Regions from separate parts of the Homo sapiens genome. Here region 1 is linked to region 2. The links come from fine-mapping of genetic effects on gene expression. Tissue or cell type: whole blood. Region 2 holds a variant in brackets; the other region holds the start of a gene. All regions are shown on one strand. Distances are between the middles of the regions.

The links. PIP is the estimated chance that this variant, and not a neighbour inherited with it, causes the effect.
Region 1: it holds the start of LPL, and the variant in region 2 is fine-mapped to the expression of LPL in whole blood (TOPMed, PIP 0.99).

The regions. Positions count from the first base shown.
Region 1 is chr8:19,935,730-19,943,871 of GRCh38, reverse strand. LPL (lipoprotein lipase) reads right to left here and starts at 4,619. Exons shown (of 10, transcript NM_000237.3): 1 at 4,344-4,619. The coding sequence starts at 4,431.
Region 2 is chr8:20,048,092-20,056,293 of GRCh38, reverse strand. No RefSeq gene overlaps it. Among named protein-coding and RNA genes, the nearest start is that of LPL, 110 kb to the right of the region's middle. The variant A/G (reference allele first, on the strand shown) is at 3,513.

The DNA of each region.
Region 1 (8,142 bases), 110 kb after region 2:
AATAGGAAAAATAAATCCTGTATGAATCATCTGAATTTTACCCTGAATTTTCTCCAATATTAGGGCTAACCTTCCACACTACTGAAAAAGAGGGGTTAAAAAATAGGTTCAGAGATGTGTATTAAAATTGCCCCACTGAATGAGACCATCAAGTGTGAATAAGCCATCATTATTTAAGGAGATCTTGTGGACTGGTTAATGAAATAATTTGGTTGAGTGTCATCACATAGGCATATTTCAGTCAAGATTTTTTAAGTGAAATACAAAATACTTACCTGGTTAATCTGAGACTACTTTCTTCTTGTTGCTGAGGATGGCAAATGGAAACATCCAGTTGTCTCAAACTAACACAATGAAAGTCCATGATTACTTTGCCAACAATTGTTTTATTGGAGGGAGGGCTGAATAAACATGGGGACGCTATTCTTTTTAGTTAAAATGTAAGTGCTAACTCCTATACTGTTTTTCACCGTAATTAATTCTGCAGCCAATTTTTTTTCAAAGGTACATTATTGATGTCATGATAGCTGTATCTTGAATGAAGGGCTGTTGAGGATCTCTAAGTGCAGATCCATTTACCTACATTCACCACCATCCCTCCGAAAGCATCTGACTTTTCATGCTACTTAAAAGCTTCTCTAAACTTTGTACTACACTCAAATTAATCCAAGCCAGAATGGTATTACCCCTACCTGACTGCATAGAAAGAGACTTCAACATTTACGAAAATACAGATGAGCGCACACACCAAAGTGGGTTGAGTGCTGTGAGCAAGGTGGCTGGATTAGACACAGTGTGGCCACGCCAACTGGGTCATCTTTGTTCTATTCTACTGTCAAATAATGGTGGGAGACGTTTTCGTTTATTCATTCAAACAGTCAAAATCACCACACTACTTAGATAGCATTTGATCATTCTGAGAGCACAGACTGGGAAGAGCAAAAGGAATGAATTGGCACAAGTTTAATAGGCTCACTTCCGGCAGAACTTACATATATATATAGCACCTAAGATAATCCATTCCTTCCTTCCTAGTAGATACCTGTTGTTGAGTACGCAAATGGTGTCAGTGCACACAGACAATCTTAAAATGGCCACAAGACAGCAAACTGCAGTCACGCAGTCTAGTGAACAGACATCGTTCAGAGTAAATTTCAAACTCTTAGCCTCTGAGTAAGTTGGAACCCTATCCTATTAGTCCTTCAGAAACTATTGGAGCCTTCAACTTTTGCAAAGACAGAATGTGACAAAAGCACTGTGACAAGAATTTTACTCCCAGGTTAGAAAGTCTCTGTTGATAAAAGGTATTTAGTTCACTGTGGTGACAAACTCATTTAATGGATAGATGATCCCAAAGCTTTACACTGATAAGTGTTTTTGTTGTTTTTATTGCCATAAAAGTTGGAATTTACCTTATTAGTAAATCCAAATGGTCTCTTCATCCAGACCTTAAAAAATCATGATACTCATGTCTTGAATACTTTCCTTACACTTTGTGATCCAAAATCATCACCAACCATCATTTTGATGGCTGGAACATCTTCATATTTAAGTCAATGCAGTCTTTGTGGTGGTCACGGAAGAAACTAGCTGCAAAATATTGTAAGTTGCAAGGCATTTTCTTGAACAATCTGGCATAAGGCAGTAAACTCTATGGCCCAATTTTTCCTCCATAATAAAGCAAGAACAGAAAGCTGAGTTAAAAATAAGCTGCTGAAAGAAAGCGAAAATTTTCCATCGCCGCTCTTCCCCCGTACCTGACTCCCACCTTTCAATACAGCTATTAATCAATCACTCCCTCGCTGAGCTCTCCTTCAGTGACATCTGCTATTTTGCTCTCCTTTGCCATCATGTTCAACTCAGAAGACAGCCTGGAAATTCACGATGGCCAGGCAAGTGGAACTTCAGCTGCTAAGCACTGACCATACTCTCCCTCTCCTAGCTCTTCACGTTTCCTAATTGGGGCCATGCAGAGATGGTGGTGGCTCCCAGGACGAAGTGCCTGAGGACAGTGCCTCTTGTCCTCATATTCTTGTTAGAAAGAATCCAGAATGAATAAGTAAACTCAAGAGCCCAGAGGAGGTGATCCCTGTCTTTCTACCACGGTGACATCTTTCTCTCCCTGAAATTCTTACCTTCCTAGATGAATGCATCTGGAGGAGAAAGAGGGAGAAAGTTGCTGTGATGGGAGAGGCATGATATATTGGGTGAGTAGAGTGAAAGTGGAGGGGATGGGAGGGCATCGTTTCCAGTCTACTTGGAAATAATCCTTCCTTAATATATTTACAGCTAGGAAAAGCATGTGTTGGCTACAACTCAATTAAACTAATTAATCACATAAGTGTCCACTTAAAGAGGCAAGAGTTACACCAGGCTCAGAGAACATTGGCCTCATCCAAACTCATTGCAGAGTTGAGGAACCTAAACCCAGAGAGGTGACACTGACTCCCAAGAATTTAGGATCTTGAACCTGTAAGGGAGCCTAGGAAAAACTTGAATGTGATGACATATTTCGGTGCTTGTTTTGCAATGAAAATGACGTTATTCTATGGTGTGCTTTCTGAAATAAGAATTTGGAGTTGGCTCCTACCATCTTCTTGTCAGCATTAAGCAGTACGAAGGGAAACATACGAAACATACCCCACCTAAGATGTTGAAGACTTTCTCATCAACTCTCCAGTGTTTTCAAACTGATCCAATAGAAAAGATACTTTTTTTCTTATCCAATTTTGCTTTGATGGAATCTATACTTAGTGTTTGTTTTGTTTTGTTTTAATTTTATGAGACAGGGTCTCACTGTCACCCAGGATGAAGTGCAGTGGGGCAATCACAGCTCACTGCAGTCTACTGAAACTCCCTGGCTCAAGTGATCTCTCAGCCTGCTGACTATCTGGGACCACAGGCACAGGCCACCACGCCCGGCTAATTTTTGTATTTTTTTTTTATAGAGACGGTGTCTCCCTATGTTGCCCAGGCTGATTTCGAACTTCTGGGCTCAAGCTGTCTTCCGGCCTCGGCCTCCCGAAGTGCTGGGACTACATGGGTGAGCCACTGCTCCCTGCCAACTTTTTGTTTTTTAACCTAACAAAAATGTTTCACAAATTAATGCCAAAATAAAACAAACGTTTAGCGGCCATCAAAGCTATGGAGAGACTCTATTATAACTTGAACCGCTGGGGACGTGCCGCCTGAGAGCACATCCAAGCGACACCGCCCTAATTGCAATTCCAGCATGGAAGAAAAAAGGAAATGTTGTCCCGTGTTATGAATGGCTTCAGCTGCTCTCTATGCTGCTGTTGCATGTTTACTGAATCGAGGTTCGAATTAAGCAGGCTGCCTCCATTGCGGACAGGTCTGAGACATTCTCATTTGGCCCCGAACGCCTGGACCCCAGCGAGCGGGCGGTTCCCTGGCGGCGGTGACCACCGTTGTGCTCGCTGCCTCCACGCGGCGCCCGTCAACCCCACGTGCTCGCAGCCGCGCGGCGGGGCCGGGCGCCCGGAGCTGACCTCAGCCCCCAGGACAGAAAGGGTGGCCAAACGCAGACCTGGCAACCCCCCGAGTCGGCGACCACAGATTGCTGGTGGCTGCGCCACGGTTTCGGGAGGGTCAGCCCCTCGCTGGGTTCTCAGGGCACTAAGAAAAGAGGGGCATGCGAGCCTGGAAGCTGGAGAGAGTCCGGGGCTCCCCAGAGCGGGTGGGACGCCGCGTCCCCAGGACTCCGCGCCACGCGTACTTTCTCCACCCCGACACCCACTGCCACTCCCACAGCGGAGCGAGGGGCCCCGCCGAGGGCGAGCGTACCCCGTGCGGCTGAGATGCCCGGAACGCCTCCCCGCGCCCCGGCTTCCCCAGAAGGGGCCACAGTCGGCCCGCGAGTCCCCGGGCGGGGGCTGAGCCGCAGTGCCAACCAAGGCGAGGTCACCTTGGCCCGCGCGCCTTTCATTCCAGGGCCCCTCCGGCAGAGAGGTGACTGCAGGTCACCGCCAGCCGGGCCCTTACTCCCCGCCTCCGCCGTCCCGGCCCCCACACCCCGGAACCTCCCCGGCGGAGCCTGCGAGCCCGGGAACGCGGTCCCAGCCAGAGTGGAAGGGATAGCGCGGGAACCCGGCAGAGAGAAAAAGCGGGAACTGGGCGCCGCCGCTTCACGATCGGGAGGAGATTCCCTCCCGGCCCCTCCTGGATCCCACTCCGGGGACCGTTTCGGGGCTAGAGCCCAGGCTGGGAGAGTCCCTGGGCGCATCCACCGCCCCTTCCAACTTCCTTCTTCTCATCCTCAGTTCGGGTGGCAGTGGCCACCCGCCGGGTCTGCAGGTGGAGGGGAGTTTGCGCGCAAAACTTACGGTCGGCGGCGGCCACCCCTCCGCGGGAGGCGGTCAGACTCTGGAGCCACACGGCCAGAGTCAGCACGAGCAGGGCTTTGCTCTCCATCTCGGGGCGCGTCCCTCTGGAGGAGCTGCAAGGCGCGGACCGACTGATGAGCCGGCTGAGCCGGAGGCTGGAGAGGGCTGGAGCCGCGGTTTGGCGCTGAGCAAGTCGCCCTTTAAAGGGGATGGCAGGGCAGCTAGAAGTGGGCAGCTTTCCCTTGAGGAGGAGGAAGAGGGGGAATCGAGTCTGACACTGTTTTCACGCCAAGGCTGCTTATGTGACTGGAAATATGCAAATAAACCTCATCACCTATTGGCTATAAAATCATAAGTTGGGGGGAGGGACCTAAATTCACTTCTAAACGTTTGAGCAAACAGTAATGAGGATCAACCCTGCCAACGAGAAGAGGGGGAAAGGGCAGACGGAAAAATTTGCTTTGTTAGGCTCCTGTTCGCTTAGCTTAAGGGGTTCCACTCTACCCGGGGGCCCCCTGTCTAAGCACCAAACACAGGTTTACATCGATTCACGTTAAATACTCAACAATCACCTGTTTTCCAAGGAGGGAAAGTTTAGCTGTTAAATTACATTTGATCGGCACTTTAATACACCTCTCTTTTGACGAATCCTGTTTGTCACTTGCAGTCCTCCCTCACTCACCCCGCACCCCATCCCCACCCCCGCAAAGTCAATGTAGGGATAGAGGGACACACATTGCGTCCCAGCTTGTGCTTGTACAATCTGGTGTTTTAACATTGGCAAGATGGATCAGCTTATGTGATGGAGAAAAGCCTACTTGCTCTAACTAGTTTCTAATTTTTGTCTCATGCAAATTATTCTCAATCCTCAAACTCATCAAGGAATGCAAGGATAATATTTTATGTTCAGAGGCAGAACATCGAGGTCAAATAATCTAAAGCCGTATTGAGTTATGATAAGTGAAAGAAGATAGTCGCAAAAGACACATATTGTATGATTCCATTTAAAGTGTCCACAAATAGACAAATCCATAGAGACCAAAAGTAGATCAGTGCTTGCCTGGGGCTGGGTAATTAATAGGGGAAGGGAAGAATAGAGATTTGGGGGTAGTTGATGACAATGTTCTAGATTACATTATGCTGATGCTGCACAACTCTGTAAATATACTAAAAGCAACAGAATTATGCACTTTCAATGGGAGAATTATATAGTGTGTAAATTATAGGTCAGTAAAGCTATTTTTAAATGGATAAGAGGCATGCACATAAAATAAGAAAAAAATAACATTAGATACTATGCTTTTCTGCCAAAATGCTTGGAATACTTTTAAATATCTTTTTAAATATAAGGGATTTACATTAGCCAGGAAGGACAATGAAGTGTATCCCCAACCCCCTCTCAGTTTATGGCTGAGAAACTGGCTCATCAAATCAGAACCTCCAATCTACTATATTTATGGTCTGAATATTTTTAATGTCCCCTTTTATTCATCCCACCCTCCGTCACACACACACAAACATACAATGCACAATTGTAGGTTAGAACAATGAAATGCTTTTTAAAAAACTGGGCTCACTTTTTAAGTTTTTCTCAAAAAATGAAATAAAAGTTGATAATACCCAAATATTTCAAAGGTCTCTATTCTGCATAACAATTCTATCTTTAAGTTGATGCATTCCGTGCCACAACACAACACACCGTCTTGTATTGCAATTATTACACAATATACTGTGCACGTTCACTCTAACCTACAAAGTATGTAGAGAATCTTGAAACCTGCCAAAAATTAAACTTCGCAGAACTTTAGAAGTGGCAGAACAGACCATGCAAGGGATGAATAACTATGATATGGCCGTCCTCCAAAAATCATGTAGTAAACTCTAATTTTAAAAAATGACAGAAGATGAATACAATTGCATTGGATGTGTTCATGGTGTGAATGGCATATAAACAGACGTGCAGAACTGCCTGCTATCTTATATAGAATACTCCTGCAGCCTATTTTCATGCATAAATGTCCTTTGATAAGACAACCAAATCAAACTGCACTTCTGTGCCTTTCAGAAAACTGCAAGGAGATTTTATATAATTGCTAAGGGAAAGTCTGATACTTATAGCGTATTTTTAAAATGATTTCCCAGGCTAACCAGATAACAAAATTAAAGCACTCAAGAGTTGGAGGATATGTAATATTTAAATATGAATCCAGTTTGGAGTGAACTGTGCCATTAGCACGTCCAATAGAGTTGCTGAGATTTCCAGGAAGACTTAATTTACAGCAGCTTAGCCTGGTTAAAAAAAAAAAAAAAGCAAGACAGGTTGGCTCCTCTCCCAGGGCCAGCGCGGAGCAGGTGGGTGTGGCGGCAACGTTCTCTCCTGATTGGCTGCACTGGGAGCCATCAGGTGCCCGCCTTCTAACGCAGAAACTCACATGATCTCTAGGTCAGGATTGCATGTGCATTAGTGAAGCGACTCATCCAAACTTTGGCGAGGTTACTCGGCCTTCAGTAGCTCAAGGCTTGACTTTTTCCATAATTGGCATTTCCTTTGTAACAAACTAAGTTTTAGGTGAGAAGAAGCTAACAGTACCCCTTTAGCAGGACACTTGCCACTGGGACACATTTAAAATTACCTAAGTAAAAACTTGAATGTGCATATCTAATGAAACAACTGGAAATTCTGGATGTAGGGAAGCATTATTTAGCTGGCCAGCCAGCTAGCTAGCTAGCTTGCTTATTTTGATTGAAGGCCTGCTAATTGCACTGGGCACTTTTCATCTTCTACTGTGTTTAATCATTACAAAAGCACTCCAAACTCAATAATATTCCCCTTCTACAGATGAGGGAAGATGAAGCTCAGGGAAGATTAAATAACAGCAACCACAAATCATAAGATGTTTTTTCTTTGGCGATCCTAGCCGAGAAGCAAATATGTATTTGATGTGCTATATTTTAATGTTGCAGCAATTGCAAACAGGAATAGGCTGGGAATCAGATTTTTTTTGTACACACATATTTTAATGTAGATTTTTATTTTGTGGCTTTCTTACTAAAGTAAAATACAATGAAATGTGTAAGTAGGCTCTAAAGAACATCAGTACTGAGTCGGATCTTGTCCTTATAAAAAGTATAATTAATGTAAGAAAACATACTAATACAAATAAAATGTATAAATACAAAGTCATAATTATTTAAAAATATTGTAAAATCTATTGAATTTTTAAAACATTTTATTATTATTATAGTTTGAGTTTTAGGGTAAATGTGCACAACGTGCAGGTTTGTTACATATGTATACCTGTGCCATGTTGGTGTGCTGCACCTATTAACTTGTCATTTACATTAGGTATATCTCCTAATGCTATCCCTCCCCCTCCCCCCACCCCACAACAGTCCCCAGTGTGTGATGTTCCCCTTCCTGTGTCCATGTGTTTGCATTGTTCAATTCCCACCTATGAGTGAGAACATGTGGTGTTTGGTTTTTTGTCCTTGTGATAGTTTGCTGAGAATGATGTTTTCCAGTTTCATCCATGTCCCTACAAAGGACATGAACTCATCATTTTTTATGGCTGCATAGTATTCCATGGTGTATATGTGCCACATTTTCTTAATCCAGTCTATCGTTGTTGGACATTTGGGTTGGTTCCAAGTCTTTGCTATTGTGAATAGTGCCACAATAAACATACATGTGCATGTGTCTTTATAGCAGCATGATTTATAATCCTTCGGGTATATACCCAGTAATGGGACGGCTGGGTCAAATGGTATTTCTAGTTCTAGATCCCTGAGGAATCACCAC
Region 2 (8,202 bases):
GTGGCTGATCAGGAGAAAGACCAAGGCATGATTAGAGGTTTGGGACTTTTGGCTCCACCCTGCATCACCCTTCCCAGTCTCTGGGGAAAAAAGTGGGGCTGAAGTTTAAGTTGATCCCAGTGGCCAATATTTAATCATTCATGCCTACATAATGAAGCTTCCATAAAACCCCAAAGGACTGGGTTCTGGGAGGTTTCTGATAGCTGAACATGTAGAGGTTCCTGTAGGGTGTTACTGTGTCCGGAATTGGTGGGTTCTTGGTCTCACTGACTTCAAGAATGAAGCTGCGGACCCTCGCGGTGAGTGTTACATTTCTTAAAGGTAGTGTGTCCGGTGTTTGTTCCTTCTGATGTTCAGATGTGTTTGGAGTTTCTTCCTTCTGGTGGGTTCGTGGTCTCGCTGGCTTCAGGAGTGAAGCTGCAGACCTTCGTGGTGAGTGTTACACTCATAAAGGCAGTGTGGACCCAAAGAGTGAGCAGCAGCAAGATTTATTGCAAAGAGCAAAAGAACAAAGCTTCCACAGTGTGGAAGAGGACCCCAGTGGTTTGCCTCTGCTGGCTCTGGCAGCCTGCTTTCATTCTCTTATCTGGCCCCACCCACATCCTGCTGATTGGTCCATTTTACAGAGAGCCGATTGGTCTGTTTTATGGAGAGCTGATTGGTCCGTTTTGACAGGGTGCTGATTGGTGCGTTTACAATCCCTGAGCTAGACACAAAAGTTCTCCACGTCCCCACTAGATTAGCTAGGTACACAGTGTGGATTGGTGTATTTACAAACCCTGAGCTAGACACAGAGTGCTGATTGGTGCATTTACAAACCTTGAGGTAGATACAGAGTGCCGATTGGTGCATTAACAATCCCTTAGCTAGACATAAAGATTCTCCAAGTCCCCACCAGATTAACTAGATATAGAGTGCCGATTGGTGCACCCACAAACACCGAGCTAGACACAGGGCGCTGATTGGTGTCTTTACAAACCTTGAGCTAGATACAGGGTGCTGATTGGTGTATTTACAAACCTTGAGCTAGACACAGAGTGCTGATTGATGTATTTACAATCCCTTAGCTAGACATAAAGGTTCTCCAAGTCCCCACCAGACTCAGGAGCCCAGCTGGCTTCACCCAGGGGATCTCGCACAGGGGCCGCAGGTGGAGCTGCCTGCCAGTCCCGTGCTGTGTGCATGCACTCCTCAGCCCTTGGGCGGTTGATGGGACCTGGTGCCATGGAGCAGGGGGCGGCGCTCAGGGAGGTTCAGGCTGCGCAGGAGCCCACGGCGGAGTGGGGGAGGCTCAGGCATGGCGGACTGCAGGTCCTGAGCCCTGCCCCACAGGGAGGCAGCTAAGGCCCCGGGAGAAATCGAGCACAGCAGCTGCTGGCCCAGGGTGCTAAGCCCCTCACTGCCCAGTTCCCAGTGCAGGGCCTGCTGAGCCCACGCCCACCCAGAACTCGCACTGGCCCACAAGCATCGTGTGCAGCCCCAGTTCCCACTCGTGCCTCTCCCTCCACACCTCCCCGCAAGCTGAGGGAACCGGCTCCGGCCTCGACCAGCCCAGAGAAGGGCTCCCGCGGTGCAGCGGCAGGCTGAAGGGCTCCTCAAGCATGGCCAGAATGGGCGCCAAGTCCGAGGAGGCACCCAGAGTGAGCGAGGGCTGCGAGGGCTGCCAGCACGCTGTCACCTCTCATTATGACTGGAGAAGGCATGGACGCTCCTGTGCCCCTTTCCCCATGCCTTGTTCTATGCACCTGTTCCATCTGGCTATTCATCTGTATCCTTAGTAATAGCCTCTAAAATCAAACAGAAAATGCAAGTAAAGTGTTTCCCTGAGTTATGTGGGCTGCTCTAACAAACGAATCAAACCCAAGGAGGGGATCATGGGAACCCCAATTTAGAGCTGACTGGGCAGAAACACAGGTCACAACCTATACTTGCAACTGGCATTTGAAGTGGAGACAGTCTTGGGGACTGAGCCCTCAACCTGTGAGATCTGACACTATGTCCAGGTAGACAATGTCAGAATTGAGTAAAATTAAAGGGCCCAGGCAGGGTGGCTCACACTTATGATCCCAGCATTTTGGGAGCCCAAGGCAGGAGGATCACTTGAGGCTGGGAGTTTAGACTAGACTGGCCAACATAGCAAGACCTCATCTCTGCAAAAAATTAGCCAAGTGTGGTGGCATGTGCCTGTAGTCCCAGCTACTGGGGAGGCAGAGGTGGGAGGATCCCTTGAGCCCAGGAGTTCAAGACTGCAGTGAGCTGTGATTGCGCTACTGCACTCCAGCCTGTGCCACAGAGTGAGACCCCGTCTCAAAAAAAAAAAAAAAGAAAAGAAAAAAGAAAAATTAAGAGGACACCCAGCTGATATTCACTGCTGAATTGATTGTTTAGTTGTTGTCTTGGGGAAAATCCCCACACAGGTGGTACCAAAAGTGTTCTGTGTTGATAATTCAGACCAGCTAAAACTCTGGTGGTTATATTAGCAACAGGAAGAAGGAAAGGCGGCCATTCAGGGAGCATTACTGGTCTCTGCCACAGCCATCCAGTAGGCTGTTATGTCCTCTGGTGAAGACTCAATACATGAACAAGCAGTTGAACTTATTAACCTAACCATGACTTCAGGTTCTCTTTCATAATACTTATTCAGATGTTTTCATCTCTAGGTAGAAGTATTAGAGATTTTTCTTAATGTAATTTTAAAATATCAAAAATACTTTGTATAATGAAAGGAACAACAGACACTGACGCCTACTTGAGGGTGGAGAGTGGGAGGAGGGAGAGGATTAAAAAACTACATATCAGTACTAGGCTTATTAACTGGGGTGATGAAATCTGCACACCAAACCCCCGCGACACACAATTTACCTGTCTAACGAACCTGCACATGTACCTCTGAACTTAAAATAAAAGTTAAAAAAAAAAAAAAACTTCATAAAAAAAAAAAGTCACGAGATCAAATTTTCAGGAATGGAAGGTTGTCATCCCGGGAAATTTTTATGTACTTTTATTCTCTCAATGAAAATAAAAATTGACGGGCTAGGCGCGGTGGCTCATGCCTGTAATCCCAGCACTTGGGGAGGCCAAGGCAGGCGGATCACGAGGTCAGGAGATCGAGACCATCCTGGCTAACACAGTGAAACCCCGTCTCTACTAAAAATAAAAAAAATTAGCCAGGCGTGGTGGCGGGCGCCTGTAGTCCCAGCTAGTCAGGAGGCTGAGGCAGGAGAATGGCGTGAACCCAGGAGGCGGCACTTTCAGTGAGCTGAGATCAGGCCACTGCACTCCAGCCTTGGTGACAGAGCGAGACTCTGTCTCAAAAGAAAAAAAAAAACTGACAATGATGAGAAAATTAATTTAAAAAGCAGAAACAGTGTGATTCGGTCTCAGGATCTAGTCTCCTCACTTTTCGTTCATCACTGAAGAGCCCTAGGAACAAGAAAAATAAGGTATTTTTAGGTGGTTTTATTTAAAGTATAAAAGGCACACTAAGGGCTAGTGATAGCATGTTAATGCCC[A/G]CAGTGACCTCAGTCATTATTTAAACTTATTTCCTCATTTTATAGGTAAGGGAAAACCCAAGAGAGTTGATACAAATTGTAGATACTGGCTGGGTGCCGTGGCTCACGCCTGTAATCCTAACACTTTGTGGGGCTGAGGCAGATGGATTGCTTGAGCCTGGGAGTTCGAGACCAGCCTCTGCAACATGGCTAAACCCCGTCTCTACAAAAAATACAAAAATTAGCTGGGCATGGTGGTGGGTGTCTGTAGTCCTAGCTACTTAGCAACCTGAGGTGGGAGGATCACCTGAGCCCAGGAGATAGAGGCTGTGGTGGGCCGTGATTGTGCCACTGTACTCCAGCCTGGGTGACAGAGTGAGACCCTGTCTCAAAAAAAGAAATGAAACAATTTTTTTAAAAAAAGAAAGTTGTAGATGCCTTGCAGCTAGTTAGCTAAAACTCGAACTAAGTTTCCTGATTCTGGTCCAGATTGTCCTGCCGTGTCATACAACCTCTCATTGGTTTGAGTCAATTTCTCCTTTCTCACACATCTGGTTCCAGTCACTACACAGTCCACGTAATGCCTCTATCCCTTCCACGTTATCTGAAAAGAAGTGCGTTAAAAAAACCTCACAACAACAACAAACAGTTGTTGAAAGTATTTAAGTTATGTTTTTGAATCCCTTTCAAAGTAAAAGGAGAACACATGATATCTCAACTCTGGCATCTCCACCTCCCCTCATGCTTAGAGATGATTGTTCTGCCTTTGCCAAATTCCATTAGAAGTCACTGCCCAGATTCCAGTGCCCTTGATGATGTCAAAATAATGTAAACCTATTTATGTCAACAGCTTCCAAGGCCTCTTAGAAAAAAATGAAATCAAGCTGCAAGAGATAAGCCTATCTTTTGAACACTCTTTCCGCTTTGCTATGAAAGGGACCCACTTTATTTTACTTATTTTTGCTTTTATTCTTTTAGATTTTTATTGTTAAATATTGCAAATATAAAAATAAGAACAGAGAATAATGTAATATTCATATATCCACCACTGAACTCAAAGGACCCTTAATATTTTGCCATATTTGCTTCAGATATTTTCAGATTTTTTTAAAGGATATAAAACATTAGAAATGCAGTCAAGGCCTGATTCCATCTTTCTCACTTCCTCCTCTTTTTCCTTCTTTAGAGGTAACCACTGTCTTGAACTGAGTTTTTATTATATTTTTCGTTTTATATTTATTTAATAAAAAGCTCAGGTCTGTCTTCTATTATTTATTTTAATGGTAGTTTGGATTTTTCTCCACTGAGGTCTTTCATACTTGTTTATCTGTTAGCTTTATTCACTTGTCCATTATCATATTTGTTGCTATTATGCATGGACTTCTTTTTACCTCTGCTCTTTCAAAGCTATAGAAATATTTCTATTTTTGTTGTTTGTTTTCAAGCTTTGTTTTGTTGTTTTTGTTTGTAATTTAGGAGGTGTATTAGTTTTCTCTGGCTGCCATAACAAATTAGCATAAACTTTGTGGCTTAAAACAAAAGAAATGTATTTTCTCACAGTTCTAGAGGCTAGAAGTCCAAAATCAAGATGCAGGCAGGGCTGAACTCCCTATAGAGGCCCTAGGGAAGAATTCTCCCTGGCGTCTTCCAATTTCTGGTGGCTGCCAGCATTAGTTAGCTTGTGGCCCCATGACTCCAATTTCTGCTTCCATTACCTTTATTGCATTCTCCTTGTTCATATGTCATCAAATCTCCCTCTGTTTCCTTCTTAGAACACTTGTGATTAGCTGATGAATTCTCTTTATTACTTCTGCATCTTATATCTGAGAATACCTTTATTTTGCCTTCACTCTGGTGATACATTTGCTGGGCGCACATCCTGTTTACTATTATTTTCCCTTAACACTGTAAAATATTACTCTATTGTCATCTATTGTAGGTAAGTATGCTCTACATTCAATTCTTTGTGGGTAATTTACCCTTTATTTAAAGAGTGTTTAAGATTCTCTTTATCTCTAATGCTCTACGTTTTATCCTGCCCAGTCCTGAGCACCTTCGATCTGAAAATTCACATATTTATTTAATTTTGGGAAATTCTCATTAACTAATTCTTCAAATACTGCCTCTCCATCATTTCTTTCATTCTGTCCTGCCAGAGCTCCTGATAGTCCAGTGTTGGAAATGAATGCCTTTCAAAGTGTCTTAGAGCTGCTATTTACTTGTTTATTTCTTTGTCTTTCTGTGCCATCTTCAGTTTAGATTTATTTCACTTCTCTAATCTTCCATTTCACAAATTCTCTCTTCAACTGTTCATTCAAGACTTAAGCATAGGCAGCATTAGGATGTTATTTTAAAGCTAAGAGCTCTGCTACCAGCTTGTCTAGATTCAAATTCCACTTCTATTCATTATCTATTGGGCTTGGAAAGTTACTGGCTTCTCTGGATCTCAGTTTCCTCATGTGTAAAATGGGAATAATATAGTTAACTCCTAGTGTTTATGAATCTTAAGAGAGCCAATATATATATGAAGCATGGAAAATAGTTCTTGGCATAAAAAATATTAACTATTACTAACATTGGTCTATTAACATCTAAATTTATTACAAAAACATTTTAATGTTAAGACTTAATTTTCATATCCTTCTTTGCTGTTCTTAAAAGCAATTATATGTTATTTTTAATGCAAATTTGTCTTTGCTTATCTCTTTTGAACATCATAAACTTCCTTATTTTATTTATTTATTTATTATTATTATACTTTAAGTTTTAGGGTACATGTGCGCAATGTGCAGGTTAGTTACATAACATCCTTATTTTAAAGTCATTTTCATACTGCTCCAGGAAGTAAATTTCATCTAGAGCAAATTCCTATTCTGAGTTTTTGGGTCTGTTGGCTATTTTATTAAATGTCTTTGGTTTTGTTGCATAACAGGCTCATTTTGAAGGGGGATTTTTTTTTAAATCTCTCTCTTGCTTCACATGCACCCTTGGCTTATCTTTTTCTGACCAATTGTATGGTGGTCTCCATCTGGCCCTGCAGACTTCCAACTAAGAAGCAGAGTCTAAATTGTAGTTTGAAGTTCATTCTTACCCTAGACTAATACTGGGGGTACCAAAGAGAGTGTCACAGAACAAATCCTGTAACCACCCAATGGGTTCACCTTGCCCACTGGCTAGACAGAGCTGATTTATCAAGACAGGGGAATTGCAATAGAGAAAGAGTAATTCACACAGAGCCGGCTGTGTGGGAGACTGGAGTTTTATTATTACTCATATCAGTCTCCCCACACATTCGAAGAACAGAGTTTTTAAGGATAAATTTCTGGGGTATTGTTGGGAGTAAATTCTATTTTAAATTCTGAGTAAATGTTACGCTATCATTCCACCAGCAATCACCTAAGGCAAGTTAAGAAGCACTGGTGAAACTTAATAGCCACATACAATCGAAGTGTGAATGAAATGAATAAATATACAAATAAACTATGTAGCCATACCTACACATACATCATGCACTCGTTCTGTTACTGAAATGCCAGGGTTTCAGTCTAGGTTCTGTTACTTGCTGCACAGAAAGCCAATCACTGTGGCAATGAGTATTGCCAGGGAAGGAGGCTTTAATATGCTGCGGTCAAGGAGATGGGAGATCAGTCTCAAATTCTTCTCTCGGACCCACTAAAATCAATGTTTTATATAGCAGGGAAGGAATGTAATGATATGCAGGAAAACAGGAATGGGGGTGGGGCGGGTGGTAAGGAAGAGGAATTGGTCAATAGGAAGCAGGTGGTCAGGCAGTCGTGGTGGGTGAAGGGTCTGGCTTCTCATTGTCCAGATGTGATAATCTGGTAAGTTTCAGTTCCCTGATACTATCTGGGAGTCCTGATGGTTAGTTTCCTGAGAAAGGAACTCAGATAAGTGTAACTTTCTCAAGTTTTAAGACTGGGAGGGTCAATTTCTATGTTTATTCAAAAGAAACCATAAGCATCAGTTCTATGGGATAATTGAAGTGGTTTCCTTTCCACATTAACGTGTGTGTATGCATGTATGTGTGAACATCTCACAGTAACAGCTCACTGTAGCCTCAGCCTCCTGGGCTCAAGGCAGTGATTGCTTGAGGCTAAGAGTTCGAGACCAGCTTGGGCAACACAGTGAAACCCCATATCTTTAAAACAAAACAAAACAAAACAAAACAAAACAAAACAAAACATTAGCCGGAGGCTGGTGTGGTGGTGTGCTCCTGTAGTCACAGCTACTCAGGAAGCTGAGGAAGGAGGATCACTTGAGCCCACGGACTTAAGTTTGCAGTATGCTAGGATTGTGCTACTGCACTCCAGTCTGGGTGACAGAGCAAGCCCCCGTCTCCAAAATTTAAAATACAATATAAAAAAATGTTCATATCTGATGCACCCTGGGAAATTTGCAACATTCTTGAGGTAAGGTAAATGTTATCTCTGTTTAGTAAATGAAGAAACTAAAGGTAGAAGGTGCTTTGCAAAGCTCTTTTACAAGTGAACCTGTAGTAATCTGGTTTGAACCCAATGAACGTCTCATTGAGGCTGAAATAATAAATTTTGACATTTCTATTTCCATTCTGAGTTTATAAGTTCTTGTTACTAGGATGAAGGCTTTTTTTTTTTTTCCATTTTCGACTCCTTTTGTGAAATAAGGATAAACTAAATATGCATACAGTCAGTCATAGCAGGGAAACACTATG